4 linked regions of the Homo sapiens genome follow. The protein of the gene in region 3 purifies or fractionates together with the protein of the main gene of each other region. This does not show direct contact. Each region holds a gene or a part of one and is shown on either strand. Other genes may lie near its edges. The genes, in order: MYH4, MYH3, TMEM260 and MYH7.

The links.
Region 1: the proteins of TMEM260 (region 3) and MYH4 purify together in Homo sapiens (affinity purification with mass spectrometry; 3 studies listed by BioGRID and IntAct, with this or other methods). This does not show direct contact.
Region 2: the proteins of TMEM260 (region 3) and MYH3 purify together in Homo sapiens (affinity purification with mass spectrometry; 3 studies listed by BioGRID and IntAct, with this or other methods). This does not show direct contact.
Region 4: the proteins of TMEM260 (region 3) and MYH7 purify together in Homo sapiens (affinity purification with mass spectrometry; 3 studies listed by BioGRID and IntAct, with this or other methods). This does not show direct contact.

What each region holds. Positions count from the first base shown.
Region 1 is NC_000017.11:10,452,494-10,459,724, forward strand, and holds part of MYH4 (myosin-4), read right to left. Parts: intron 6,929-7,231; coding exon 6,758-6,928; intron 5,237-6,757; coding exon 4,927-5,236; intron 4,063-4,926; coding exon 3,992-4,062; intron 3,409-3,991; coding exon 3,321-3,408; intron 3,239-3,320; coding exon 3,121-3,238; intron 2,803-3,120; coding exon 2,679-2,802; intron 2,585-2,678; coding exon 2,448-2,584; intron 2,318-2,447; coding exon 2,062-2,317; intron 1,393-2,061; coding exon 1,150-1,392; intron 836-1,149; coding exon 659-835; intron 440-658; coding exon 294-439; intron 14-293; coding exon 1-13. UniProt on the Homo sapiens protein: Muscle contraction.
Region 2 is NC_000017.11:10,647,268-10,654,498, forward strand, and holds part of MYH3 (myosin-3), read right to left. Parts: intron 5,297-7,231; coding exon 5,153-5,296; intron 4,402-5,152; coding exon 4,245-4,401; intron 3,135-4,244; coding exon 3,107-3,134; intron 2,419-3,106; coding exon 2,310-2,418; intron 1,383-2,309; coding exon 1,290-1,382; intron 160-1,289; coding exon 96-159; intron 14-95; coding exon 1-13. UniProt on the Homo sapiens protein: Muscle contraction.
Region 3 is NC_000014.9:56,575,649-56,582,871, reverse strand, and holds the start of TMEM260 (protein O-mannosyl-transferase TMEM260 precursor), read right to left. Parts: upstream 3,075-7,223; 5' UTR 2,958-3,074; coding exon 2,798-2,957; intron 1-2,797. UniProt on the Homo sapiens protein: O-mannosyl-transferase that transfers mannosyl residues to the hydroxyl group of serine or threonine residues of proteins. Specifically glycosylates the IPT/TIG domain of target proteins, such as MET and MST1R/RON.
Region 4 is NC_000014.9:23,432,661-23,439,887, forward strand, and holds the start of MYH7 (myosin-7), read right to left. Parts: upstream 3,001-7,227; 5' UTR 2,960-3,000; intron 1,590-2,959; 5' UTR 1,534-1,589; intron 1,081-1,533; 5' UTR 1,073-1,080; coding exon 872-1,072; intron 568-871; coding exon 424-567; intron 136-423; coding exon 1-135. UniProt on the Homo sapiens protein: Myosins are actin-based motor molecules with ATPase activity essential for muscle contraction. Forms regular bipolar thick filaments that, together with actin thin filaments, constitute the fundamental contractile unit of skeletal and cardiac muscle.

The sequences.
Region 1 (7,231 bases), on a different chromosome or scaffold from region 3:
TTCAAACTCTTTCCTATTAGAAGAGCAACACATTAGCTTATAATCACTTCTCTTACCAATCTTCTTTTCTATGTATAATCTAAGACTTTTTTTATACTGCTGGTGTTGAAGGAGTGAGTAGTACAATGTTTTACAGATTAATAATTGTATTAGTTTAATTAAATAAAAAGGTCAAAGATGTCATTATTTTTTTCCATATGTCATGATGTAACATTTTGGAGATCTTTTTAGCGTATGTTTCATTTGCATTGACATACAACAAGCAGGTTATAGCTGAATTATACCATACTTACTTTTTGAGTTTCTCATTAAGTTGCTGTTTGTCATTTTCTGTATCCATTGTGGATTCTTGGGCCAATTTTAGGTCACCCTCCAGTTTTCTCTTGGCTCTTTCTAAGTCCATGCAAAGTTTCTTTTCTTGTTCCAGAGATCCTTCAAGCTAAATTTATGATGCATTTTATTTATTTCAGCTCTTAAGCACTGAACCCTATGCTAGTAGCCTTCAAAGATACATAAGAAAAAAATTTAAAGATACAACAAATAGCACAAGAACTTTATTCACAGACCAAGCGTTAAAGGCTTATGACTATCAGTGCTGGTTTCATGTCACAATTGTTTATTTCATTGCAAGGGGAAACATTTTCTTTTTCACACTTACATCGTCCACTTGCTGTTCTAGCTTGGTTTTAGCTTTGGTCAGGGTGTTGACTTTGTCCTCCTCCATCTGCAGGTCATCCAGGGTCTGCTGGTGGGCCTCCTGGAGAGCCTTCTTCTCCTTGGTCAGCTTAGCAATGGTTTCATCCAGACCTGCCATCTCTTCTGTGAGGTTTTTCACCTTTAGATTAGAACAGATGACCAGAATGTCAATGACAACGTATTATCTTGATGAAAAACATGATGCTGTAGTATCTTAGGATAATGTCAGCGTAAGATGGAAAATGAGAACCAGGAGCTAACCCAGGCCTATAATGGCTGAAAAAATAGGAGGTAAAGGTCAAGTAAGTACATTGAGGTGGTGAAGACTAAAGAGATGAAATAGTTATGACAGTGGTATTTTTTATATTCAATCATCTTAAGATTAAATTTTTAATTAAAATACTTCAGTATCAAGGTGCTTATAAATATTCTAAAATGGATCATGATTTGTACCTTGTTCTCTGTGGCATGTTTCTCCTTCTCAACCTTGGCCAGTGTCAGCTCAAGGTCATCAATGTCTTTCTTGAGCTCTGAACATTCATCCTCCAGTTTCCTCTTCTTGGCTGTCAGCTCAGCATTGATCTCTTCCTCATCCTCAGCTCTTTCAGTTACCTCTTTGATTTTGGCCTCAAGTTGGATTTTGGTTTTAATCAACTGATCACATCTTTCCTCTGCATCAGCCAAGGCATCTGCTTCCTAAAGGGAGAAATTAAGCATTTTCATTTGTCTGAGCTATATCTATAAGCACACAATAATTTATTATAAGGTGGAAATTTCAGTGACTACCTGTTTGGTCAACATGTATACCAGTTGCTAACTTTTAAAATGAAACAGACAAAATGTTAATACTGTTATCTACTGATCAAGTATAATAACAAATTTCCTTCAGATATTCATGTGTGGCAGGCCAAATCAGGAAAACTAGCCCTTTGGCAAAAATCTGCCACTTTACTAACCTTTGCAACTTTGGAAAAATCGCTTGTTCATTGTAGGACTCAGTTTTCTCACATTTAAGAGGGGATTAACTTAGCCATTTCTCTGCCCTGATAAAAACAACATAACTTCTATTTTATGCACAAAAATACACTAAAGAAAGAATAATCTGATCTGAGAGAAAGTTCCATAAATAAAGGAAAATGTCTATTGATATTTTTATGAATTTGCTCACTGATGACCAAACTGTGTGTGAATGCACATATGAACGTGTGCAGCATGATATGTGACTTTGCATCTATTGCTTCTTTATGCCCGAGTCTTGGTGTTTTTGAACAGCAAACAATCAGAACAAATGTTTCAGTGGAAACCATTCATTTTAAAACGTTAAAAGTAATAAGATGTGGCTGAACTGCAATGTATAATACTTACAGCTTGAACTTGGAGTTGTAAGTCATTTTTCTCTTGCATTAGCGTCACCATCTTTTCTTCTAGTTCTTTCCTTTTTGCCTCTGTCTTAGCCAGCTCTTCTTTGGTTTTCTCAAATTCTTCCTTCATGTTGGCCATCTCCTTCTCTGTCTCTGCACTCTTGAGGAGGGGCTTGATCTTGAAATACAGCTTCATCCAGGGCCAGTGCTTCACATTCATGAAAGCACGGATGTTGTACTGAATGCAGAAGATGGACTCTCTGTAGGAAAAGAAAAAAAGATGCAAATGGAGAATAATGTGGAAAGTGATCATCACTCAACAAAAGTAATGACTGCAGTGGATTCATTTATGAAAGTGTGGAGCAGGAAGACTTGTGTGTGGGCTCTCACCTCCTCTCCATCATCTTTCTGAACTCCACTCTCATCAGGAACCCTCTGCATATGGCTTGAGTGCGCGTGATGAGTTGAGCTAGCTTTTCATCTCGCATTTCCTCTAGAGTTCCCAGCAGGCCAGCTTTGAAGAAAACCTTATGAAAGAACAAGTTAAATATGTTATTTCCACTTACAGGAAAGTCTAAAAGTGATAGAATTATGACAGATAGAAATTTGGACTGGTGATACCTTGGTATGACCGAATTTGTACTGGGTGTGGTCAATTTCAATAGACCCTAGAAGTTTCTCAGAAGCCTTCTTGCTGTCAATGAACTGACCCTCTGGGATAGCACTCGCATTTAGAACCTTGTATCTGTCAGAATAAAAAGAATATAAAAATGTGGTTTTTCTTCACTGAAAAAAACAGTAGAACATTTGGTAGCTATCATTGAAAAGATGATAGATTAAGTTTTGGTGAACAAAATGCCATTTAAAAAGTCAGTGCTTTATTTAAAACTTCGGAAGATATGATGAAAAACTTATGATAATATAAACCTAAGCTTCTTTCTTTTATGATCAATTTTCAAATAATTGCATGTCATTTTTCAAGGAAAAGTTTAAAAATGTTGGAATTATATAGTGATTTTGTGTAGACTAAGACATTGGAAGGGAAAAATAATGAGACACAAACCTCTGTTTGAAGTCTGCATAAAGGATTCTGCTTGGGAAGCCTTTCCTGCAGATGCGGATGCCTTCCAGCACACCGTTACACCTCAGCTGATGCAGGACAAGCTCATGCTCCATGGCACCTAAGAGAATGAATCCACATGCCATACTTCGTGGTCTATCGCACACACACTGGAGCTTGTCTGGATATCAGAAATGTCTTACCAGGAGTTTTAGTTTCATTGGGGATGATGCACCGCACAAAGTGGGGGTGAGTGCTCCTCAAGTTGGTCATCAGCTTATTCAAATTCTCCTGTGGAACCATATGAAAAGTTTTAAAATCATTTCTAGTTGCATCGACATGAGAGTCCCTATCAATATTTGTCTTTCATTTCACATTTTAATGAGCTGTCTCAAGGAAAAACAAATTATCATAACAGAGAGGAATCATATAAGTGGAGCACAGGTAGGAAATTACAGATTACACAAAATCAGTTAATTTCAGTTTGTTATTCTCAAGCACCACCAGTCAGAGAAACTTTGTATTGCGATTTTTGTCACATGAAGGAGATGTAATTGAATACAGTGGTTATTTTTAAAAGAGCATTTGATTTCATGTGAAATTTGTACAATACCAGATCTCTTGGATGTAGGGCTCAGGGGCAATGGTTCACGTATCATAAAGATTGATGTGAAGAGATATGTAGTTTGTTTTTTTGTGCTAATTTTTTTTCCTAAGCCATTTAAAAAGTTTACAAAACCTTTAGTAGTATACTAAAAAGTATACTGTACTACTTTATTCACTTTCACCATAAATATCTTTTAAAAAATTTTCTGTTTTGATGGTTTAGTTTTTTAATGAAAGTATTTATCTGTAATTCAAGAATATACTGTACCCTGAAAAGAGCTGACACTGTCTGGAAAGAAGAACCCTTCTTTTTGCCACCTTTCTTTCCACCACCACCCTCTAAAAAACAAAATGGGAAAAATAAAGTTATTTGCAACTGCCTTTTAAGTACTATCCATAAACATCAGGACTGCCAAAATTCCCTTTAGAATTTAAATTTGCACTCATTCACTTGCATCATTCCTATTCTTTCCATATCTCTCCTCCCTCAATTGTAGATTAAGAAAGTCTAAGATTTGGCTGACTTTATAGTCATTCATGAAAAAACCAACAACAAAAGAATTGTGAGTGTAAGGGGTAGATGTGGGTAGGGGATGGGACTCCCCTACTCCAAGTCAGCAATGTCTGTTCTCTGAAGGAAGGGCCAAGGAGACAGAGTAGTAATGCCTTGTTAGTGCAGGCCTCACTTGGACAACAGGCAGAGTTGCACACTTGGTCCCAGGTAGGTGAGCCTCTGCTCACCTGCAGGGAAATCCTGGCTCCCATTTGCCTGTGCTTCCATGGTGTTACTTGCACATCTGGTCTTAGAACACTTAAGAGAACAGAACTTCAGTTCCCCAAGCACTAGGGCCCTGACAAAGGATTTCCTTATCTCCAGCCTAGCTGGAGAACCTTGAAAGAACCAATACTATTAAAATGATAGAAATGAGTTTTATGATCCTGAGCAAATCACTTAACCTCTCTGAGATTCTTGTTTTCTCATGAGTGAAATCAGGCTGTGGGCTAAATGCTCCATAGTGTCACTTAGCTCTGAAAGTCTGTGACTGTAAGACTGTATCACAGTTATTAAATACACTTTCTTTCATTAGGCATGTATTGGCCAGTGTTTTTGTGTCAGGTTTTGCTGTAACTACATTTGTCTCTGTTGAACAGTGTATATCTATTTTGTGACTCTTGTAACATATTAGTGCTATTAAACATGACCTGCTTCAGCAGTTTGTGCCCCAGAGAAGAGGAAAGCCAGAGTCTTCATTGCAGACTTCTGGTACAGCCCCACCACAGTCTCATTCAGGGGGTCCTTGTTTTTGTCCAGCCAGCCGGCGATGTTGTAGTCCACGGTGCCGGCATAGTGCACCAGTGAGAAGTGAGCCTCAGGCTTGCCTTTGGCAGGCTTGGGCTTCTGGAAGTTGTTGGATTTTCCAAGATGTTGTTCATACAGCTTGTTCTTGAAGGAGGTGTCTGTTGCCTTGGGGAACATGCACTCCTCTTCTAGGATGGAGAAGATGCCCATAGGCTAAGAATAGGAAAAAAGGGATGATAATGATGAGTCCCTCAGAAAGTTATGCTCCATGTAATTGATGGAAAACTGAAAATACAATGTTTCAAAAGAAGACTTTGAATGATAAATTAAATAGGCATGACATGTGAAGCAGTCATTATGTACCCAGAACATATGGGAAATATACTTGCTAGAAAGACTCAGTTAAAAAAAATACATCTGAACTATTTGGCACACTTTATGTTCAGTGTATAAAATCAGATTCTGAAAACATCACTTCAAAATTGAATTCTTTATTCCATAAATGTATATATCTGACTACTTTCTTTCCTACTGACAATATAACTTCCTTTACCTCGAATCTAGAGGTGACAGAAGTATGAAGGGAAGAGAGATTATGTGTAAGGACTAAAAATGATCCATTCCTAGGAGGAAATTGCATCTTATATTGTATCATTAAAATTCTGTACTTTAACCTATATTCTCTACCACTGTGGAGTTAAGTGATAGTAATTTGGTTTTGCTTTCTAAGAGTTTGGCTTTTTTCTTAATGTATTTGATAGGAAAGACTGAAAGAAAATTCAACATTGATGATTTAACAAATTCACAAATTGTACCCCTAAGACTATTTTGGTGATACAGAAACTGAAATACTAGAGAATAAAATAAATGCCTTTTCTGAAGACCATAAAGTTTTCATGAATAGTAGAGATATTATATCACCAGATTAACGTATCTTTTCCCCAAATTGTGCAGACCTAGTCTGCTTTTAAACTCTTATCTTTCATATTTTTGTGAATTTTAACCTGAGTATTTTAAGTTTTCCTAGGTGGCAATTGCATTTACGCTTCCTTTCCCACTGCTTAGGGTAGGGTTCACACATACACTTTATTGATATCAATAAGTATATGACAAGCTCCCAAGATACTTTTGGAAGTGTTTAACGATTGCTTGATGAGTGTTAACATATCTAGATCTGATGTAACTATTGCTTCACCCCCTTAGTAATGGGGAATTCAGGGCCCATTTTCTAGGTAAGTGATACAGAGGTTTGGTGTTTATTCAGTAGTTATCATGAACGGGGAAAGACTTAATGACTGCAACAGTTGAAGGACTAACCTTCCAATCTTTAAGACGTGTTGACATAGCCTGCCTTGTTACACATGAGGGATGATGATAAATGCACAATACACTGTCATGGGTACACCAGGGTTAATTACACAACCCAGAGGAATAGCTGTAATTTCATCCCTTTCTCCCATATGCATGAAATAGTGTAGGAAGAAAAGTGAGGGAGAATTAAGTTTTTAGAGGGATAAATGCGAATCCATATGTGTGTGAGTGATAAACATTTTTCTACAAACTGCTCTACTTATTAATAACAGATCACTTGGAACATACCTCACAACCAATCAGAATATACGAGTGTGTCAGGAAACAGCACTGCTTGTTCTTTGAGAACAGGGAGTGTGATTAAGCACAGGGAGGCAAGCAATTTGGTTTTCATGTTTTGAAAGCTAGAAAAGTCATATGAACCTTCTCGATGAGCTCGATGCAGGCAGCCAGGTCCATCCCGAAGTCAATGAACTCCCACTCGATGCCTTCCTTCTTGTACTCTTCCTGCTCCAGCACGAACATGTGGTGGTTGAAAAACTGTTGCAGTTTCTCGTTGGTGAAGTTGATGCACAGCTGCTCCAGGCTGTTGAACTACAGAACAAGATAAATATAGGAAATTACGCATAACAAGTATTCTATCTACAGAGTATCTATTAGTATTTTCTTCTGAATTTAAGGCATTTTGGTTTATTAAATTATAAACCTTCAGATTGTTTTCCTATTATATAGTTCTAAACAAAGTAGAATTGATTCTTTGAATACTTATTTTCCAAGTAACTGCATGAGATCATGCATACTAGGCAAAATACTGTTAAATGAGGACTCTGAAATATTTCCTTAGAGTAATTTTAAAAAGGTGTTCTCATGCTCATCTGCTTGGATCCAGGATAGATT
Region 2 (7,231 bases), on a different chromosome or scaffold from region 3:
TTTTCCAGAAGATCTGGAACACAAACACAGGACTCTCTTTCAAACTGTTCCCAGTTAACTCTGAGACGCCATCGAATCCCCATGGATCTACTTACAAGTTTCAATATCTGCAGAGGCCAGCTTCCCAGTGGTTCCAAAATGGATTCGGATGAACTTGCCCTGTATGGGGCGGGATTCAGGGGGAGACCAGATTCTACCATGGCCCAATAGTTCCTATTCATCTTATGGGTAATTTGAGTAGGAGCCTAGTCCCCCTAAAATTTTTGTTTTGTTTTGTTTTGTTTTGTTATGTTTTTGAGACGGAGTCTCGCTCTGTCACCAGGCTGGAGTGCAGTGGCGTGATCTCGGCTCACTGCAACCTCTGCCTCCCGGGTTCAAGTGATTCTCCTGCCTCAGCCTCCTGAGTAGCTGGGACTACAATCACGTGCCACCACACCTGGCTAATTTCTGTATTTTTAATAGAGACGGGGTTTCACCATGTTGGCCAGGATGGTCTCGATCTCTTGACCTCGTGATCCGCCCGCCTCGGCCTCCCAAAGTGCTGGGATTACAGGCGTGAGCCACCGTGCCCAGCACCCCCTACAGTTTGAAATTAGATATGTCCTTCCTCTTCTCCCTTCTTCTTCTTCCAGTTTGGGGTTTTCCTTATTTCCTTTTATTTATCCCTTTTATTCTATGCTCATCCCCCACTTCAACGTATCTAGTCAACAAAGCAACTACAGTGATTGTTTCAAGGTGTAAATCAAACCATATCACTCCCTGGCTTATAGAATCCCTCAGTAGCTTCCTGTTACACTTCAAAAGGAATCCAAACTCCTTCTCATGGCCTGTGGCTCCCACATGACCAGGTCTCTCTCTCTTCCACCTCATCTCATGGAACTGGCCCCCCTGCCCTCCTCCCTACAACCACACAGACCCTCTGTAGGTGCCCTGACTGCACCAGGCCCTCCCCCATGTCAGGGACTGCCCTGGCCCTTCCTTCGTTCCCCCTCCTTCCTGTCATTTCAAGTTGGGCTCTTTCTCATACTGCGGCTCTCAGCTCCCGTGCCAGCCCCACAGAGAGGTCTTCCCTGCCCACCCTGCCTAAAGCAAGCCTGGCCCCCAGTTCCTCTCTTACACACGCTGTTCATTGAACTTGGTCTGAATTTATCTTTATCTGAAATGGTCTTGTTGGGTTGTTTTGTTTTTCATCATCTGTTGCCTCTGGTCTCTACACTCTTTGAGGACAGGGCTCTTGCCTATTTTGTGAGGCACAAAGCAAATTCCATCTTAACCAAACTCAGACTCACAAAACGGGAGGAGTTGTCATTCCTCACAGTCTTGGCGTTCCCAAAGGCCTCCAGCAGGGGATTGGCACTGATGATTTGATCTTCCAGAGTCCCCTAATGCAAGAAATTGAGGGAAGAAGAGGAAACATTTTTTTTTGAGATGGAGTTACACTCTTGTTGCCCAGGCTGCAGTGCAATGGCACGATCTTGGCTTACTGCAACCTCCACCTCCCGGGTTCATGTGATTCTCCTGCCTCAGCCTCCCGAGTACCTGGGACTACAGGCATGCACTACCATGCCCGGCTAATTTTGTATTTTTAGTAGAGATGGGGTTTCTCCATATTGGTCAGGTTGGTCTCGAACTCCTAACCTCAGGTGATCCACCCGCCTCGGCCTCCCAAAGTGCTGGGATTACAGGCGTGAGCCACCGAGCCCAGCCTGAGGAAACATGTTTTTAAGCCACAGAATGACAGTAAAAAATGCTCACCCACTCTGTGACTCTGGCTTGCCCTGATAAAGCCCCACCCTCCTTGACTTTCCAATCCTAGGACCAACCAAATCAGCAGCATGTCTTACTCAAAACACTTTTGCCATTTTGTTATATTTGGCACTACAGTTGGGGATCTCTTGACTGAGCATTCCTTTAACACTTCAATCCCTTGATTCTCCAGTCAGTTGTCCGTATTCATTTCATGCTGCTGTAATACATTTGTTTCAAAAGCCCAGGATATGCTGTGAGTCACTCACATTGGTATATGTGATTCTTCCACAAAAGAACAAGCTCTCTGAGCCGTCTGCAGATTGACCTCTGAAGTTTAGCCCTAGAGCCTTGTCTTCTAAGAAATCCCGGGATCTAGTCCTACAAGACCAACTTGACACTGCGTTGTCTAAGGTGACTGGCTGTCCTTCAAGATAGTAAATCCTAGCCTGTTCTCCATTCTCTGAAGAGGGGGGAATGTGAGGACATTTGGCCCCCTCATTCTGAGGTTAAGACCACAGTTAAAAGTGGAAGCAAAGCAAGCCTTCCTCTCCCATCTATACCTTCATTTTGGAGTCCTTCTTCTTGGCCAGGTCCCCAGTAGCTGCAATTGTTGCAAAGTACTGGATGACCCGTTTGGTGTTCACAGTCTTTCCTGCCCCGGATTCTCCGCTGTACAGAGTGATCAAAAGAGAGAGAAAGAAACAAGTCTGTTAGTATAAACAGGCTTTTCAGGATGTCATACTGAGGCCTGGGCATGGTCTGAGCCATCTCTGACACACACTCACCACACTAATGTGACAGACCACTTGAGAAGGCAGACGCCCAGGGCACAGGTGCCACAGGCACTTGCTCAGCTGACCCAAGGATGGGTAATTCCATTTTTCTGAGGCCTTATGCAGACCTTCCTCCCCATCCCCAAATCGATCTTTTTATTTTTTATTTATTTATTTTTCTCTTTTATTTTTTATTTTTTGAGACAGAATCTCACTCTGCTGCCCAGGCTGGAGTGCAGTGGCGCGATCTCGGCTCACTGCAAGCTCCGGCTCCTGGGTTCACGCCATTCTCCTGCCTCAGCCTCCTGAGTAGCTGTGACTACAGGTGCCCGCCACCACACCCAGCTAATTTTTTTGTATTTTTTTTAGTAGAGGCAGGGTTTCACCGTGTTAGCCAGGATGGTCTCGATCTCCTGGACCTCGTGATCCGCCCATCTCAGCCTACCAAAGTGCTGGGATTACAGGTGTCAGCCACCGCGCCCAGCCTGATCTTTTTATTATAGACTCTGCTCCAAACACTTTCTAATGAACAGAATAGAGCCAGTGGCACAGCTATGAAACCACTCTATGCCATGGATACTTACGTGATCAGAATGGACTGGTTTTCACGATCTGCCAGAGGAAAAAATAAAATAGAGTTGATGGCAATAGAAAAAGAGCTTCCCGATTCTACCCAACTCTCAAGTAGCCAGAGTTAAATTGCACAATTCCTCTTCCTTTACATTTTTTGTTTAGCCTTTAGGTGGGAATCTGAAGAGCCTCCATCTGCTTTTTATTTTATTTTATTTTTAATTGACAAACAATATTTGTATATATTTGTAGGGTACAACATGATGATTTGATATATGTTTATATGGCAGAATGATTAAATCAAGCTAATTAACAAATCCGTCACCTCACATACTTATTTTTTTGTGGAGAAAACATTTAAAATATACTATTTTAGGGATTTTGAAATATACAATGCATTATTACTTATCGGAGTCACCATTCTATGGGACAGATCACCAGCACCGATTTCTCCTTTCCAGCTGTATCCTTTGGTCAATATCGAAAGCCTCCTTCTTGAGACTGAGACTCAGAGAGGGCAAGTCTCCACTCAGAATCAGCCAGTGGCAGCCGGGTGCAGTGGCTCATGCCTGTAATCCCAGCACTTTGGGAGGCTGTGGCAGGCAGATCACGAGGTCAGGAGTTTGAGACCAGCCTGGCCAACAAAGTGACCCCTGTCTCTATTAAAAATATAAAAATAGCCGGACATGGTGGTGCATACCTGTAGTCGCAGCTACTCGGGAGGCTGAGGCAGGAGAATCGCTTGAACCCGGGAGGCAGAGGTTGTGGTGAGCCGAGATCACACCACTGCACTCCAGCCTGGGCAACATAGCAAGACTCCATCTCAAAAAAAAAAAAAAAAAACCAGCCAGTGGCTTCTCATCGTTCTTGCTGTATTAGGCTGAACTATATAAAATGATCAGTTTTTGGTTTTGATCCATGAAAACATCCATATCCGTTTTGCATATTCTAACTTGCATTAAATCCAAAACTCGTCACCTTGGCATGCGGGGCCCTACATGATGCAGCCCCTTTCTGCCTCTTTTGGCTCCTTCTTCCTCCTTTCCCTGTGCTAAACACCAGATGGGGTCCAGCCTGGGAGTAAGGGGCAACTGCCGCTCGCCTCATGCAGTGCCTGCTCCAGCATCCCATGCTTCCTCCTGGGAAACTCACCAGTCAGCATGAACTGATAGGCGTTGTCAGAGATGGAGAAGATGTGGGGTGGGGCCTCCTGGCGCTTTTTGCCTCGGTAGCCTTCCACCACCTCGGGGTTGTACACCGGCAGCCACTTGTAGGGGTTGACAGTGACACAGAAGAGGCCTGAGTAGGTCTGTGGGAGGAAAAACATATACGTGCGTATATGTATGTATGTGCATATGGAAAACCCCTTGCCTTTATTATTATTATTGTTTTTTTTTTTTTTTGAGACGGAGTCTCACTCTGTCACCAGGCTGGAGTGCAGTGGCACGATCTTGGCTCACTGCAACCTCCACCTCCCGGGTTCAAGCAATTCTCCTGCCTCAGCCTCCCGAGTAGCTGGGACTACAGGTACATGCCATCACGCCCGGCTAATTTTTGTATTTTAGTAGAGATGGGGCTTCACCATGTTGGCCAGAATGGTCTCGATCTCTTGACCTCATGATCCACCCGCCTTACCCTCCCAAAGTGCTGGGATTACGGGCGTGAGCCACCACACCCAGCTGCCTTTATTATTATCTCATGTTTCTTTGGGATAAACTTATAAAGGGGGGAGGCTACCATTCCTATTTATAGTGAGGCACTGAGACTCAAAAAGGGGAGTGGCGACCCTCCCACAGTTGGTAAGTCACAGCACCCCGTGACCAAGCCTGGCCCCAGCTTCCCCGCTCTCCGGCTCCTGGTCCTCCTTCCCACCTTCCTTCTTCCTGCCCCATCCACCTCTTGCTTTCTTGCCTTCTTTCTCCTCCGTCTTTGTGTTTTGTTCATCAGCTAGGCAAGCACTCATCTTCCAGAATCCCACGGCCCACACACATACCTCTGCCTCCCTCCCCTGCCCGCATATCTAATGCCCCAGGGAAACCACGTCGAAAGCCCTCGCTGACATAGATCATCCAAGATGTGTAACGGTCCTTCAGGTTGTACAGCACGGCTGGCTCATTCAGGTGCGTCAGCATGGCCATGTCTTCGATCCTGTCGAACTTGGGGGGGTTCATGGCGTACACATCCTCTGGTTTGACCACCAGGGTCTAAAAAGGAAGAGGCACAGTGCTTCACTAAGATGGTCTGCACGTCTTTTTTTTTTTTTTTTTTTTTTTTTTTTTTGAGACGGAGTCTTGCTTTGTCGCCCAGGCTGGAGTGCAGTGATGCGATCTCGGCTCACTGCAAGCTCCACCTCCCGGGTTCACACCATTCTTCTGCCTCAGCCTCCCAAGTAGCTGGGATTACAGGCGCCCGCCACCACACCCGGCTAATTTTTTTTATTTTTAGTAGAGACGGGGTTTCACCGTGTTAGCCAGGATGGTCTCGATCTCCTGACCTCGTGATCCACCCGCCTCAGCCTCCCAAAGTGCTGGGATTACAGGTGTGAGGCACCGTGCCTGGCCTGTCTGCACGTCTTGTCTGCTGCCCCCACCAAAAGACCAAGAGACTCTTGAGCCGAGATGGAAGGGCCAAACCCTAGAACAAGCCCAGCTCACAGCGAGAGGAGGAAAGGCTATGGGGCGGCTTGTGGTGGTGCTGATGAAATGGGGTTTGTTTCTGTTATTCAGGGTGTCTTCTTCCTCCCCATTGGGCCTGAGGTGAGAGACGGATGTCGGAAATGAGAAAAGAGGATCTGTGTGGGTGGATATGGGTGATGGTGGCTGGGAACGGGGCCAGCAGGAACCTTTCAGCTCAGTCAGTAACACTGCCTGGACCAAAATCCAGCTCCAGCAGCTGGCTCTTTCCTGTCTACTGAGAGAAAATGACGCATATGTCCCCTGCAGTCGTGAGGCAGGGACCGAAGAGAATGAGGAAGGGGCATTGGATTGCCAGGCTGGTGCCCATGGATTGCCAACATTCTGAGCTCTCTGAAAGCAGCTGTCCAGCCCCCGGCCCACCTCTTCCCCCTTCACCACCCAGCCCCAGCATGCTCAGGAAAGGGCCCCTCAGTTGCCCTCCCCACCCCTTTCCTGCCCTTTCTGGGGTCAGAGTGTTATAAGCCAGGCAAACGGCACCATGAGGCAGAGCAGTGGTTCTGAGCACCTGCACTTCTCTCAGCAGGACAAACCCCCACACCCTCGGGAAGCTGGAGGACCTCAGGCACAGGGGGTGGGGAACTTGTCTTCCTCTTCCCTGCCCTGTCCTCACCTCCTTTTTCTCTGTGACCTCCTCTGAAATGGTCAGTTTTCCTGGTTCTGTCTCTGGGCAGTGTGGATGGGAAACCTGCCTTTTCCCTGCCTTCAAGCAGGGATTCATTCAAACCATCCCGGCCAATGGGCCCTGGCTGTCTATGATGGTCTCTTAGGTTCATCTTAGATTATCATTCACTGTATCTAGCTTCCTCCTTCCCTGACGTGTTAGCAGCCCATTCTTAGCTCCTTATTGGAAATACACAGAGAGCCACCTTTTCGGAGCTCCAATGCTTGGTAGCACTGCAGGGCGGTTCTTATTTTTTGGGGGGACCGAGTCTTGCTCTGTCTCCCAGGCTGGAGTGCAGTGGCGTGATCTAGGCTCACTGCAAGCTCCACCTCCCGGGTTCACGTGCAGGGCGGTTTTTAATGCCTTTTTTCCTTCATGCCCAACCCAATGATAGTATTTCCTTTACTTGTCTCTTTTATTTTCTTTCTTTCTTTCTCTTTCTTTCTTTCCTTCCTTCCTTGCTTTCTTTCTTCCTTCTTTCTTTCCTTCCTTCCTTCCCTCCATCTCTCTTTCACTCTTTCTTTCTTTTTTCCTTTTTTTGCTTTTTACTTTTCTTGGGACTTTTCCAGATTCTCCTGATGTGGATTTTAGAAACTAGTGAGCTCCAGAATTCCTCGCAGCACCCCCACAGTGGCTTGGGCCAGAATGTAATGGGCTGCAGTGCTCATCCCCTTCATGATACAAGGAGGCTGCTATTTCACTGAGCTTGTGGTCCCCTAGGATCCCTAACACATTTTCCTTACTTCCTTGGTTAGATGGCCATTGATAGAATAATTTGGGAC
Region 3 (7,223 bases):
GATGTCCCCATTCAACGTCTCTAAATGTAACCTTGATAAAGATCTAAAGGGAAATACTACTCTTAAATTGATTGTGATAAAGAGGAAGGGAATAGTAAAAAAACCTCGAGCTTCCCGAGTCTTGGCTTTCTCCCAACCCTTTACATGAAAGGTTCCTCAGTTGTGTCTACCTGCATCAGAATTAACCTGCTTTTTAAAAATGAAGATTCCTTGCCCACACCTCCAAATTCCATAATCTACTAAGACCCACTTGCACTGGGGGCTCAAGTTTCCCAGGTAATTCTGAAGTACGTTCCTGTCTGAGAACCACGGCTTTGTTGTCTGCAATACAAACTAATGGCAAGCCCAGAGTTGTCAGCAGATGCTTAACCTTTACAAAAACCAGCTCCCTTTATATCATACTTCTCAATATTAATTAGACTAGACTGTCACACATCACATCTGTTAAAGACAGTATCTTTGAAATAAACTCACGTACAAACTAATTTAGTGAAGGCCAGATTCCTACCCCCTCCCCGAAAAGCACCACAAGCACCCTGCCCATAAATGAACTGTGTGTGTCAAGTGGTACAAAAAATAATTTTGGCAAGACGACACAATGTGATGAATCTATGGAGTAAAATGTAAGACTTATCAGGAAGAAGAATACATGCTTTATACTGGTTTTGAGATGTGTTCTGTTTATTGATGAAAATATAATTCATAAACATTCAAGAATAGTGCATTCAACATGTAAACACAATTATCAAATATACGATAAAGCAAATTTTCCATATTGGCATATACTTGGAAAACAGTTTATCATTCCCAAAAATGAACATAAAAATATTAGAAGCAACCACTATTTAACATCAAACCAAACAAAATTAAAGCACCTAAAGTTTGGTAACTCAAGGTGAATACACAACTTTATTCTTTTAGGAAAAAATAAAATACAGTATTAATAAAGGCAAGGCAATAATCATGATTTTAAATAAATTTTAAACATCACTACATATGTGATGGTGGATTTAGAAAAGAATTTCATGAAATGTTTTGACGAAAAGTAGAGGTTAAGGGGGCATATTCTGAAGTCAATATACTTTTCTTTTCCTGATTTCTCTACTTTGTGTGACTTTGGGCATAGCTTAGCCTTAGTTTTCCCATTTATAAAAGGAAAATAATAATTGCACCTACTTTTAAGGGTAGCTGGGAGGGTTAAAACAACAACCCATATAAAGCACTTGGAACAGTGCCTGGCACATAGTAAGTGCCCAACAAACGTCAGTTATTATAAATCTCACTCCCATCCTTCACACTCAACCAACCATAAGTAGCTGTCAATCTTTTTATTTTTTTACAAGTAACAGAACTACCTAACCTCTGAATAATGCTCTCCAGCACCAAAACTCACAACTATAAAGTTACTTCCATTATGAAATACCAATCTTGGTAACACTGTACAGAAACTCCCTACTACACGAATGAAACACTATCCCTACTTGTGCAACAGGACCTGAAAGAAGAAAGGTAACAATTTGAAGATGTAACATCAAAGATCTTCAACGTGGTAGGCAGCCCTAAATATGATCCCCACTAATCCCCAAGTCCTGATATTCTCACCTGTGTAATCCTTCCCCCTTGAATATGGGTTGGGTTTACTGACGAAGTTCCAGGAATAAAATGCAGAAGTGGTATATCACTTACAGTATTAGGTTACAAAATGACAGAGCTGTCAGACAGAGAGGTGTCCTTCATCTTTTTCTTGACAGAAGTCAGTTAACTTATGGAGACCCACATAGCAAAGAACTAGATTGCGTTTCTCCCCAAATTGAGCCTTGAGAAGACCGCAGCCCCATCGCACACCATGACAGCAACCTTTTTCTGAGTACGAGCATCTAGCTTAAACGGCACCCAGACTCCTGATTTACAAAAACGGGAGACGATAAACGTTTGCTGTTTAAGCTGCTCAATTTGGGGATCACTAGTCATGCAGCAAAAACTGCTTCTTCAGTCCATAGGTTCACCACCTGAAATTACAGCACTATTCTGACAAAATTACTGGCCATGATATGGCATTATTGAATCCAAAAACAAAACATGGATCTTGTTTCTTGCATCAAATACAAAACAATTAGTGTGATTTAAGGGCCAATGAGTCATGCTTTTCTTTTTCATAGAAACAGCCGCACCTGGCTTCCACCTTTTTAAGAGTTCTCCTGCAAATATTCTGCATGGCTAGTTCCTTCTCAATATTCAGGTTTCAACTAAAACACCACCTCTTCAGAGGTCTTTCCTGAATAGTCATTCGGAAGGACCCACTACTTACCCCCACTCTCAATCATATTTCCCTCCTACTGTCTCCATAACTTATCACCAGTGAATATGCTGTTTATTCATTAACTTGTGTATTGTCTAACCGCACTGGAACACTAGCAATTATCTGTTCGCCACTACTGTTCTTTTGTTTGAAACATAATAAGGACACCGTGAATAATATCTGTGGACTAAAAAAGACTGAAAGTAAATACTCAGGACCAGGATAAAAGATCTGGGGAAGTGGAGAGGTCGATAAGCCCCACCAGGCGAAACCAACAATACGCCCCATCTCGAAAACCTGAGAACTAAAGAAACCACAACGACAGGAATGGAAACAGAAGTGGGCTCTGGAACACACAATAGTGCGCTGTGCACAGGGGGGTGGATGGAGGCCCAGAGCTGACCAGACCGAATGCCAAGAGCAGGGGCCAGACGCAGACCCTGCCCGTTCTGGGACCAGGGGAGAGGGACAGAAGGGGCAACCCTGCGAGTACTTTACCGGAGTCTCCCCCCGGTACCGAAGGGGGCAGGGTGAAGGTGAACACTGCGGCCACGGCGGCGAACACCGCCACGCCGCCGCGGATGCCCCCGGAGCGCCGCAGCCCCACTCGGACTGCCCGCCCCTGGGCCTGGCCCCTGCCGTCGCCATGGGGACTCATGGGCCAGTGGCGACCGAGGGAGAAGGACACGGCCAGCCCAAGAACCCGGTGCGACACGGAGCTCCCCAGCCGAGAGACGAGCGCAGCTTGTGCGGCGGCCACGGCGGCTTCCGGGTCGAGCCTCCGCGGGTTGGACCGCACCTTTCTCCGCCTGAGCGCGGGGAGGAGAAAATGCCAGGCCTCCCTTGAGCCAGGCCCTGCGAGTTTTCCCGCAGTGCACCACGCATTGGCGTTCACCTACTTATAATGTGATTTAAGGTTCCTAATCACCAGGAGAGCATTCCCTTTAAAAAGCAAGCCCGGCCACAGGCCTACCTTCTCCATGGCTATTCCCCCCTTTTATACTGACTTGGTTGGGTCTGACAGAGACCAAAGCAGCGTCGAAAACCGCGAGCGAGGAAGGGCTGCTCCTGCCCCCTACGGTGCGGGGTGGAACTGCACAAAAGGGCCACGATCAGCCAGGAGCCCCTACCTGTGCTAAAAAAAAAAAAAGGGTGGTGTATTTACCGTATGTGCAAAGTAAGCCAATAAATACATTAATCACAATTATGTATTTATTACGATTTACTACGTTACTATGACTAATTACAATAAGTCTGTGTGCTACTTATTAAATCACTGAGTAATTTTTAGAGAGATTAGAATATGCTAGTGCGTCTTTTTTTTTTTTTTTCATTCCATAGCATAATGAAAACTCTGTAGATGAGTCGGGAAATTTGAGTTCCTGTATTCATGCAGATAACTCAAACCATGATAAAGGTGTCTCCTAGTTTAATGAAGAGGAGTGTTTTGCTGGAGCTTTCAACACAGCAAAGTGGAAAATGAAATTGAATCACCATATTTTACAATGAGCTGTAACGCAAAAAAAAAGAATCGGAGCCGTTAATAAGGACAACTACATAACAGCGCAGTTAAGCTTTTTAAGCTTATGTTTTATTATTAAAGCAATTATCCTGGAGTGGGCGGGGAGGAGAGCAACCCGCATAAAATGTATCTCAAAGACACACTGAAAACCAGTGACAATCTCAAACGTGTTACGCGCAATTTGATAGAGACACAGTGACTAAACTATAGAGTAACATATACCTACCTTGACGGTCATGGGGCCAGCACACCTTAGTCTTTTCCAGGTACTTATACAATTTCCAGCCTTTTCCAGGTAATTTCTCAGCTGTACTGTGAGTTCCTGGAGGAGAGGGGCTGTGTGGTAGAGTGCTTCTAAAATGGATTCCCAGATAACCCTGCCTCCTCACTCACTTCCTGTATAAGCTGCTCGCCTTATGTGTGAGCTTAACCTAAGGATTGGCTTCTATCAATACAATAAGGCAAAAGTGATGGATGTCACTTTCAAGATTAGGTTATGAAAGACTAACTTTCATCTTGCTGGCACTCCCTCTTGTCCTCTCACTTGTTCTCTCTGATGAAGCCACCTACCATGGTGTAGGCTGCCCTGTGGAAAGGTCCACATGGGAAGAAACTGAGAGCCGCCTCTAGCCAACAGCTGGCAAGAAACTGAGACCTTCAGTCCAACAACCTTAGAGGAACTGAATCTAGGCAACACCATGTGAGGGAGCTAGGAAGTGGATCCTTCCCCCACATAAGCCTTGAGATAACTATAACTCCTGTCAAGACTTGGATTGCAGCCTGTGGATGACCCTGAAGCAGAGGACCTAACTAAGCCTCATCCAGACTGCTGTCCTATAGAAACCGCGAGATAATAAATGTTGTTTTAAGTTGATAAATGCAGGCTAATTTGTTAGTTATCAGCAATAGATAGTTAAGATAGGCTGTCTTCTATTTCTTTGCTGAAAGAACATGCCAATGAGTAACCTTGACTGGGTCAAGCATATACTTCTTTCCCTTTTTATGCATTTCACTTTTGCTCATGAGTTTTATTTAAAATTTTTTTATTTTGGAGGGGAATAATTCTTTGTCCATGTTTGGGAGGTAGAGATCAGTGCTGGAAGTACAAATTTAGGAGTTGCTCGTGTAAGGATGATATAAATGACTAACTTGATAAGGGGATAGTGTAGAGAGAACAAGGTTGAGGTCTAATGTCAGCCCATATTCTCATTTAGGGAATGGCTGGAGAAGGGGAGAGAACAGTGTAAGAGAATGAGGCATCACCAGAAGCTAAAGAAGAAAAGTCGATGAAGTACATGTGGTCAGGATGTTACAGAGAGGTAAAGGACAATGAAGAGAGGCACGTCTAGATTTTGTGAAGCTCAAGTGTATAAAACTTGGAGAATTATATGTAAGTAAACTGATATAAAACTGCAGATACAGAATTAGGCACAAGATATTGGAAGACACCTGGGCTAGAGAGGAACTGTGAGGCCTAAGCTTCATTAGCTTCATGGTTGTTTTCCTTTGAAGATTAAGAACTTCCAGTTCTCTGTTTATGTCTGACTCTACCTCTCAGTAAGCATCTGACTATTCCTTCCTCCCCGGAAGTATTTTCTTTTCTGGCCTTCATTGATAGCACACTCTTTGGTTTTCCTTTTATCAATGGCCTCCCTGCCCTGGCTCTGCTTCTGTCGGTCCCCCAAATGCTGAAGTATTCCTGGGCTGTTCTAGACTTTTCTCTCTTTCTGTCTTCTTTCCCGAGATGATCATATTGAAGCTTTAAAGGGCAACTATGGGGCAATATTTCTCAAAATTAGACCTCCTCTGCTTCTCTTTTTTAGCGACCGATTATTTTAAAAAACCCAACTGCCCCCGACCTCTCCATTTCTATGTCTAAATAGCCTGTCAAACCTGATGGACTTTGTCTAATTTCCACCATATTTAAAATGATGCCTGGCACAAAATTGGTGCTAAACAAATATTTATGTAATAAATGAATACATGAACAATCAGAGATCACTGGCATATCCGTTAGGGATTGCATTTAGCTACTAGTGACAGATCCTGCTACAGTGTCTTAAACATTAAAACAATCATTCTCTTATATAAAAGAAGTCAGAAGTCTATAGGAAGTCAGTCTACCACTGGCTTGGCAACTCCCTGATTCCACTAGGGACACAGCTGAAGTCCTCATATCTTTCTGCACCATCCCACTCAGCTCACATTCTCAAGGTCATCTACTGATCCAAGGTGGCTGCTAATGCTCCAGACATTACATCTGTTCTTGAGGAAGAAAAAGAAAGGATGGGAAGAGAAAGGCCTGCTCCAGCTTTTTTAAAAAAGCACTATTTTTTTAAATGCTATTCCACAATTTTGCTATATCTAATTGGCCAAAATTGAATAACAGGTCACTCCTAGGGGCAAAGGATGCTGCGAAATAGACTTTTCAGCTGGACAGTTTGCCTAGAATTCTATTACAAAGGAAGAAGGGGAGAATGGATACTGAGGGGCAACTAGCAGGCTCTGCATGGTTGGATTTGGTGACCTGGAGGTATTTGAACCTTGAAAGTTCAAGAGGTCAGCTTCAGTAGAGTAGTATCTACAGAAACAAGGTACTAGTGGGCTAAGAAGTGAGCAAATGGAAGACATGAAAATAAAATACATTTGCAAAAAGTTTGGCAGTGAAGGGAAAGAGAGAAATAGCATGAAAATTCACAGGGATCGAAGTGTCAAATGAAGATTTTTGAATGTCTTGTTTTGTTTGTAACTCAAGGGAGTATTTGGAGAGACATAGTGATGAAGTAAAGATGTACAGGTTATTGGAGAGGATGGGACTGAGGAGGACAGAAGAGAAGGGTTGAAGATAGAAAATGTTAGAGATAAAGAGAGAGACCTCATGATGTCTCTCTTTACACATGATGTGTAAACATGTGATCGTTGGACTTGATCCTGAGACAGACCAATAAGACATATAACGAGTATTGATTTATTGTTTGTGCTCTACATCATTCTATGATGGCTTAGAGTTAGCCACTATAATACAAACCATAAAGCAGAAAAATATGTAAATAATTTGGGATTCATCCAGAGAAACAGAACTAGTAGGAGATATGTATGATACAATTTATTGCAAGGAATTGTATAATGTAATTTTGAGGGCTGGCTAAGTAACTCTGAAGCCCGTAGCACATGCCATCAGGAAGGGAAGACTGGAACTCCTGGGCATGGCAGAAAGCTGTTGTCCACAGCTGGAAGTTTTTCTTCATCAGGGGACCCATATCCCTGCTCTTAAGGCCTTTCCACTGATTGAATCAGGCCTACCAGATTAACTATGATAATCTCACGGTTTTGAAGACAAATGAGGCTGGGCATGGTGGCTCATGGCTGTAAACTCAGCACTTTGGGAGGCTAAGGTGGGAG
Region 4 (7,227 bases), about 33 Mb from region 3:
GTTGTCGGAGATGGAGAAGATGTGGGGCGGGGCCTCGCTCCTCTTCTTGCCCCGGTAGGCAGCCACCACCTCAGGAGTGTACACCGGCAGCCACTTGTAAGGGTTGACGGTGACACAGAAGAGGCCCGAGTAGGTCTGGGGATAGAAAAGGAGCAGTGACTTGCCAGTTGCGAAGGGGGAGGGCTGGTGATTTTGGGAGTTAGAGAAAGATCCCAGGAGAGAAAGAAGAGAAAGGAAAACCTCTGCATGCACTCAATCTGAGTAATGCCAGTCCCCAGAGTGTTGGAATTGAACCAAGGATGTTGGGACGAGGTTAGAGTGTAACCCTGCCTAGACACAAACAGAAGACACTCTTGGCTCCTGGGGTGGACATGGATGGAGCAAGAACAGAGATCCCAACGTAGGGCCAGGTGCAGCACTCACGTAGATCATCCAGGAGCCGTAGCGATCCTTGAGGTTGTAGAGCACCGCGGGCTCATGCAGGAAGGTCAGCATGGCCATGTCCTCGATTTTGTCGAACTTGGGTGGGTTCTGCTGCATCACCTGGTCCTCCTTCACGGTCACTGTCTGCAAGAGCCCCCACCCAAGCCCTCCTGTCAGCCTGGGCTTTCCCTCCTTCCTCAAGAGGGTTAGGAGTTGGTGAGTGACAGGGCAATAGTGCTCAAGAGAGAAGGAACCAGGATCTCACAGGGAAGACAGAAGGGATATTGGGAAGGAGAGGGCTCTTTGGAGGGTCTGGATTCTTCCCCAAAGGGAAGGAGAATGGGACCATCCTCAGGTCTGCATGGGCATGGGGCATGGGTGTACCCCTCTCTGTCCACCCAGGTGTACAGGTGGCCAGGGTGGACTCTCACATCAGCCTGACACCCACCTTGCCATACTCGGTCTCGGCAGTGACTTTGCCACCCTCTCGAGACACGATCTTGGCCTTGACAAACTCCTGTTTGTCATCAGGCACGAAGACATCCTTCTTGAGGTCAAAAGGCCTGGTCTGCGCTTCTAGCCGCTCCTTCTCTGACTTGCGCAGGTAGGGGGCGGCAGCCCCAAAGACTGCCATCTCCGAATCTCCCATGGCTGTGCCTGGAGTGAGCAGAAGCTGGCTGCCCTCCCATCTGCCCATTCTTCCCTTCCCTCCCTGGGCTCTCCCCTTCAGTGGGAGCCCCAAAACCTAGCACCATGCTCAAGAGTCAAGAGGAGTTACCAGTGAGTCCCTTCCTCTTTGAGGTTACCCCTTAACCAGAGGAGCAGCCTAGCAAACCTGCCAGGGTAAAAGGAACAACTAACTATTGTTCAAGCTGGGGCTCTCCTAGGGGAAGGAAGAGCATTCTGAGCTCCCTGTAGGAGCAGAAATCTAACTATTTCCATCTCTGACCCTCATCTATCCCTGGACCCCCTGGTCACAGGTAAGTAGCTCTTGATAGCCAAGATATTCTCTCCAGCACATGGCAGAAACTAGAGTTCCATAGGCTGGCTTTGGGGCTCTAATGCCCAGTCTTACTAGATTTTCAACACTCTAGCTTCAGCTTTTCTTACCTGGGCTACTCAAGTGTGTCTACAGATGAGGAAAGGGGCCAAGGCCTGCAGGGGACCTGGAGAGAGGGAAGAGGCTGTGTCAGGGCAGGCTGTGCCCAACCTGACCAGTCCCACCTTCCTGCTTCTCCCTGGCTCTGTTCTTCAGCATCCACCCTCTTCCAAAACAAGGTGGAAAGGGTGGTCAGCTTCTCTGGTCCCATCCTTCTTGTTTTTCAAACCCTATTCCCTTTTTCCTCAAGAACTAGTTCTAACAGCTTCCTGGTGTCAACTCAACCTGAACCCTAATCCTCTTCACTCCTGCGAGATGGTCCCACCCCTGCCTGTACCCATCTAGTGGTACCTTTCTTTGAGCCATCTGAGAGACAACTAATGGTCACATTTGTTCGGCACTTTCCAGTCTAAAAGCACTTCAATGCACTTTCTCCTACTCAGTCTTCACCCCATTTGACAGATGAGGAAATCGAGGTTAAATGGCTTGCTTGGCCAAGAGCCCATGACAACAAGTGGGAGAGCCAAGACTTGAATGCAAGTCTGATGACTCTAAAGAGACTTCTTTTCCATCCTGTCCCCATTTTGTTGTCAGACTTTGTGGACATTCTCAGAGAGAAGACACTGTGGGCTTCCTCTCACAGACACACCCATCACATAGCCAAACACCCTCCACAAGCCCTCTGATGAACACTCATGCCTGCTGCTTGGGCATGCCTCTCACATGAAGACAGGCTTCCTTCCCATACCTCAATCCGCACCCCAACCCCAGGGTGCCATATATGCCTCAACAGCAAATGTGCACATTTCAGGATGTGTGCCACGTAAGTAGATCACATCACTGCGTGTTCTTCAGTACACAAAGACCTGGAACATCCTACACCCCCGTGCCTGTGAGTTCCTTCTGCAGAGGGTACAGATACTATAACAGTCATGACTCGTGGAGGCATAGACAAGAACCTCTGCATGCATGGACAGGGGTAGCTACACATTCCAGGCCTCACAGAATCACATGAAGGCATACACACTTCCTAGAATCCTTCTCCACCATTCTTTCTCCCTCCCTGCAAAGGAACCTCCTCGTTCACAGACGTGATCATACACCCACATCTCCCACTTGATATTTCTGTATCAGTCAGTGAGGTACATACCCTTTCTCACATTCAGACTATGCAGGCTTGTCCACACACACACACACACACACACACACACACACACCCTGTAATGCATATTGGTCCCATATGCTCAGATGCAGATATCTTCCCCTAGGAACTCCTGTGGCACATACGCCCATGTTTAGACCTGCACATGTGTGCCCAGTGACTGGACCTGGTACTCTGCATGAAGTCCTGCATGAAGCTTGCTATTCCAAGAGGAATCCCTTCCTAAGCCTGGAGCCCCCTTATCCCAGAGTAAAGCCTCCAGCTCCCGCTCCTACCTGAGAGCAGCAGGGAAAGACACAGAGCAGGACAGAGCTGTGGAGCCAGACCTGGTCTCAGGGGCTGTATATATGGGGCAGCAGGGCACCCCCACCCCCAACGGCACCCAGTCCCTAGCCGGATTTAGAAAGGGCTGTTGTCACTAGAAGCATTTCCCCCAGGCTCCCCCCCTTCCCAAACAGTGCTCCCCTCCCCGCCTCTCCAGCTAGGAAACAATTGGAAGTGGTCGTCATTGTTATGGCATGGACTGTGCAGGGTCTGAGTTCCAGGGGGCGGGGTGGCTCAAAGTGCAGCAAAAATATCTCCCAGGCCAGGCCTCACATTCCACAGCTGGCAGGAGAGGGAACTGACCACGACCACCAAGACCACAGGCAGCCAATGTCCTGGCTCTCCCGCAGGGCACTTCTGGCCCTGGACACTGCTCCCCCTCCAGTCCCCTGCTGCGAGGCCCCTGATGGCCTGGCCGCATTTCCACAGTGTCCTCCCTGCTCTCCTGGCCCAGGTCCTGTATCCAACTGGAAGCTGGGAAGGGGCTGAGTGTCAGCAGCAGAGAAGGGTAGGACAGAGTTGGGGGCATGGCCCCAGGGTGAGGCAGCTAGACTGGGGCAGCTGGAAGGACATTTCCTAGCCAGGTGGCAAGAACAATAACCATGGAGCTTAGAGATGGGGACTCTGGCTCAGGCACTGATTTCCTTGGACCAGCAGGCAATGTGTTGAGGTCACCAAGCCTCCGAGCCAGACAGGCCTTTAGCAATCCATCCAAGCACTTCATTTAATGGAGAGGGACAGTGCATTCTTTAAGGTTATACAGCTAATCGGGGCAGCAGGATTCAAGGTGGGAAACCTCAGCAGATGGGAGTGGAGCCCGGCCTGTGGAGGGTAGCCTGGAAAGGTGGGCTGGGATTCCAAAGATGTGGGGACCCCCTATGCGCAGAGAGCAGGACCCAGCTGCATTGGTCCTAGTTTGGAGCGGTTTGCCTGACTCACGTTCCTGGCTCTGCCCCACAGGTACTAAAGGCCTGAGCCCAGAGACAGACCCTCTCAGAGCTATAGATAATACAACTACTTGGAGCTGGAAGGAGACCCCTAAGACAGCTGTTGTCTGGCCCACCCAGCCTCAGCTTTATCCAGAGCTGGAGGCGACTAGTGTTCTGGCAAGTGAGGCAGAGTAACAGGACAGGAAAAATCTTCCCCTCTGCAGGCCTGAGGAACAGCCACAAAGGAGGGGAGGAAAGGGAGCTGGGGCCCAGCCTACGAGCACAGAACACAACCGATGCCATGCTCTTCTAGCAACGGGGCATGCAAGCTTGACTGGCTCCGTGTCTAGGCAACCACTGCACGATTTGGTGTGAAATCTCCCCCTTCTTCCCAAGCACAGCTCTTCCGCGCATGCGGATTAGTCCATCTGATTAGCTGTCAGCTTGGAAGGAGTGAGGCAGGCCTGGGGGATGGGTGCAGCAGGTACATTTTGAAGGTGGGGTGGGCATAGCAGGGAAGGGAAAATCCAGGAGGAGGCCTCTGTGGGGGTTGCTTGGTAACCAAGGCACTAAGGTACAGTCTGAGGACATTGAGCAGCTATAAGGGGGGTGCAGGCAAGTGGGGGTAGACCACGAACTGCAAGGGCTGTGTCTGACAACACCGCAGCTCTGCAGTGCTAAGGTATACAGTTGCTGAGGTTATCCCAGTAGTCTGTGCTACTAACATGCCCGGCAGAACAGACTCTGGCAGTCCCCCCCAGGCCCTGCCAGGTGCTGAGGAATCAGCCCCATTGACAGAGACAGACCCTCTCAAAGCTATAGATAATACAGCTGCTTGGAGCTGGAAGGAAACCCCTAAGACAGCTGTTGTCTGAGGTTCCCTGTAGGAACCTCAAGGATTGGCGATGAGGGGCAAAAACTCCTTTCGTCCCCACCTTCCAGCTTTCCAAGCTCCAAACTGCCACCCCTCCCTGATTTCCCAGGGCAATTAAGATGCACAAAGGGTGCTTGGGACGTAGTTGAGCCATTTCAAAGCCAGTGTCTTCACCACAGGCCAGCGTCCTTCCTTGGCTGGGGACTTGGGTAGTCTTTTCTGCATTTGGGAAATCAATCACACTTTGTTTCTCTCCTTTCGGGTTTGGGAGGCTCTGGTCTGTTGGTGTTTGGGTGTTACTGTTCTCCACCCATGCCCCCTCTCATTGCAGATAGAACTCACCTCCCTAACTAGGCTTTGCCTCACAGCTCAGACAGATCAGAGGGCCTGCTGTCCTTAAAGATCCCCACTCACTCCCTAGCTCCTCCAGCACCTGCTCTTGGTTACATCATGATTCTCTTCCTGCTGCTTGCTGCTGTCTGAAGACTGAGCAGCTTTGCAGATTCCTCCATTCAACAAGTATTTATTGAGTGCCTACTATGTGCCAGGCATTATTCTGGTCAATAAGGACATAACAATGACCCAAAGAAAGATCCCTGCTCTGGACTGCTTTAGTCAACTGTTTGTAGAAATGGCATCCAGGCCTACCCTTTGCACACATGCACATTCCTTGTGGGGAGAGTGAGGGGCCAGGGGCCCCACCATGCTGGGGTGGGTGGGGATTGTGCAGAGTGTGCTACAAAGTGATAGCAAGATAAAGGAGAGCAAAGCAAAATGCTATAAATAAAGAGAGGCTGGAAGGAGGGCCGCTTCGGCAAGGTAGACCAAATAAGGCCTGAAGTGAAAGGAAGGTGATCTGTCCCCCGTCCTCCCCTCCCCGCATTGTGCCGGCTTTGTCTGCACTCTGTCACCACCCTGATCAAGTGTCAAGCCAAAACAGGGGCCATTTGCTGTGAACACGCCAGCGGTAGTTCAGAGGAAAAGTTGCTAAAATTACTCCCAGTAATTGTGAGGGAGGGAGACACCAGGGCGAATTAGAAGCGATGTCAGCATGGAGAGAGGGGAATCAGAAAAAAGCTCCGGTACCCAAAGGGAAGGAAGAAACGGGGCAGGAAGAGGCAGGGCACTTGGTGCAGGGGAGGAATGAGGCACTCGTTGTTTGTGCACAGGGCAGAGGGGAGCCACCCAGGAGTGGAGGCTGACTCTCCCATCCGCCTGCCCCCAGAATCCCTGACCTTGGGGGGACCCTGCCCTGGCTCCACACGAGCCTAGGATTAGGGAGCTGAGCTTTCTGCCTGTCTCAGATTTCCCTTTACAAACAGCTGCTCCTTCTTGTCATTCTTTTGTCTTCCTGCTGGCTTCAAAATCTTTTGTACTTGTGCACCCCCTCTCATTCCCTACTCTAGGTCTCTGCTTTCTGATGGATGTGAACAAAGAGAGAGATGGAGGGCCGGAGACAGGCTTGGGGCTGGCCTAGTTCACTTTGGGGTAGTTAGGGCAGGTTGATCTTGCCTTCAGGGAGTGTTTGGAGGGACACAACTCACCAAAAGGGAGACTTTGTGGGGAGTGACCGGTCTGGAGGGCCAGAGGCCTCAGAAGCATACAGGATGAGCAGTCTGGTCAGCTTTGGAGTCAGTCACAAAAATCCACTTTGAAACCCAGTGATTCCATTTTCTAGCTGTGTGGTCTACGTCAGTCATATAATTGCTTTGAGCCAGTTTTGTCATCTGTAACATGGGGATAGCCACATTTTGTTTCCAGGGCTACTCAGGCCATTAGAGATTGCACAAGCAGAGTCTACACACAGCAGACACACTGTGGGCCCTCACTGAATGGCAGCTCTTAGGTTAGGAACACAAAATTGAGGAAGCCAGGCTGCAGACAGGAGGGCCGGTTGCCCTGCCATAGGTTCTTTGTCCCCACACCTCCTTCAGCCCCACTAAGTCCACTTGGTTCAAAGGATGGTCTGGACCAGAGTAGATCAGAAATCCTGCAGTCTTGTGGTCGGCTCTACCCAGACTGTGACTGCCCTTGGGAACGTCATGCCAGGAGGCCAAGGTTCTCAGACTGTCCTAGACTCAGTCTAGGCCCACAGTCCAGCCCTGAGCTGGGATAGGCATCACTGCTTGACTGCTGCCCACTGAGCTTCCCTCATGACAAGCCAGTGTGTCCTGAGGTCCAGCAGGAGTTGACCCAGGCCAAGTGGTGACATTGGTCAGGCCACCAGATAGGAGCAGGCTGGGCGTTGGTGGCTCACACCTGTAATCACAGCAGTTTGAGAGGCTGAGGCAGGCAGATAACTTGAGGTCAGGAGTTTGAGACTAGCCTGACCAACATAGTGAAACCCCGTCTCTACAAAAAATACAAAAATTAGCCGGGCATGGTGGTGCACTCCTGTAGTCCCAGCTACTCAGGA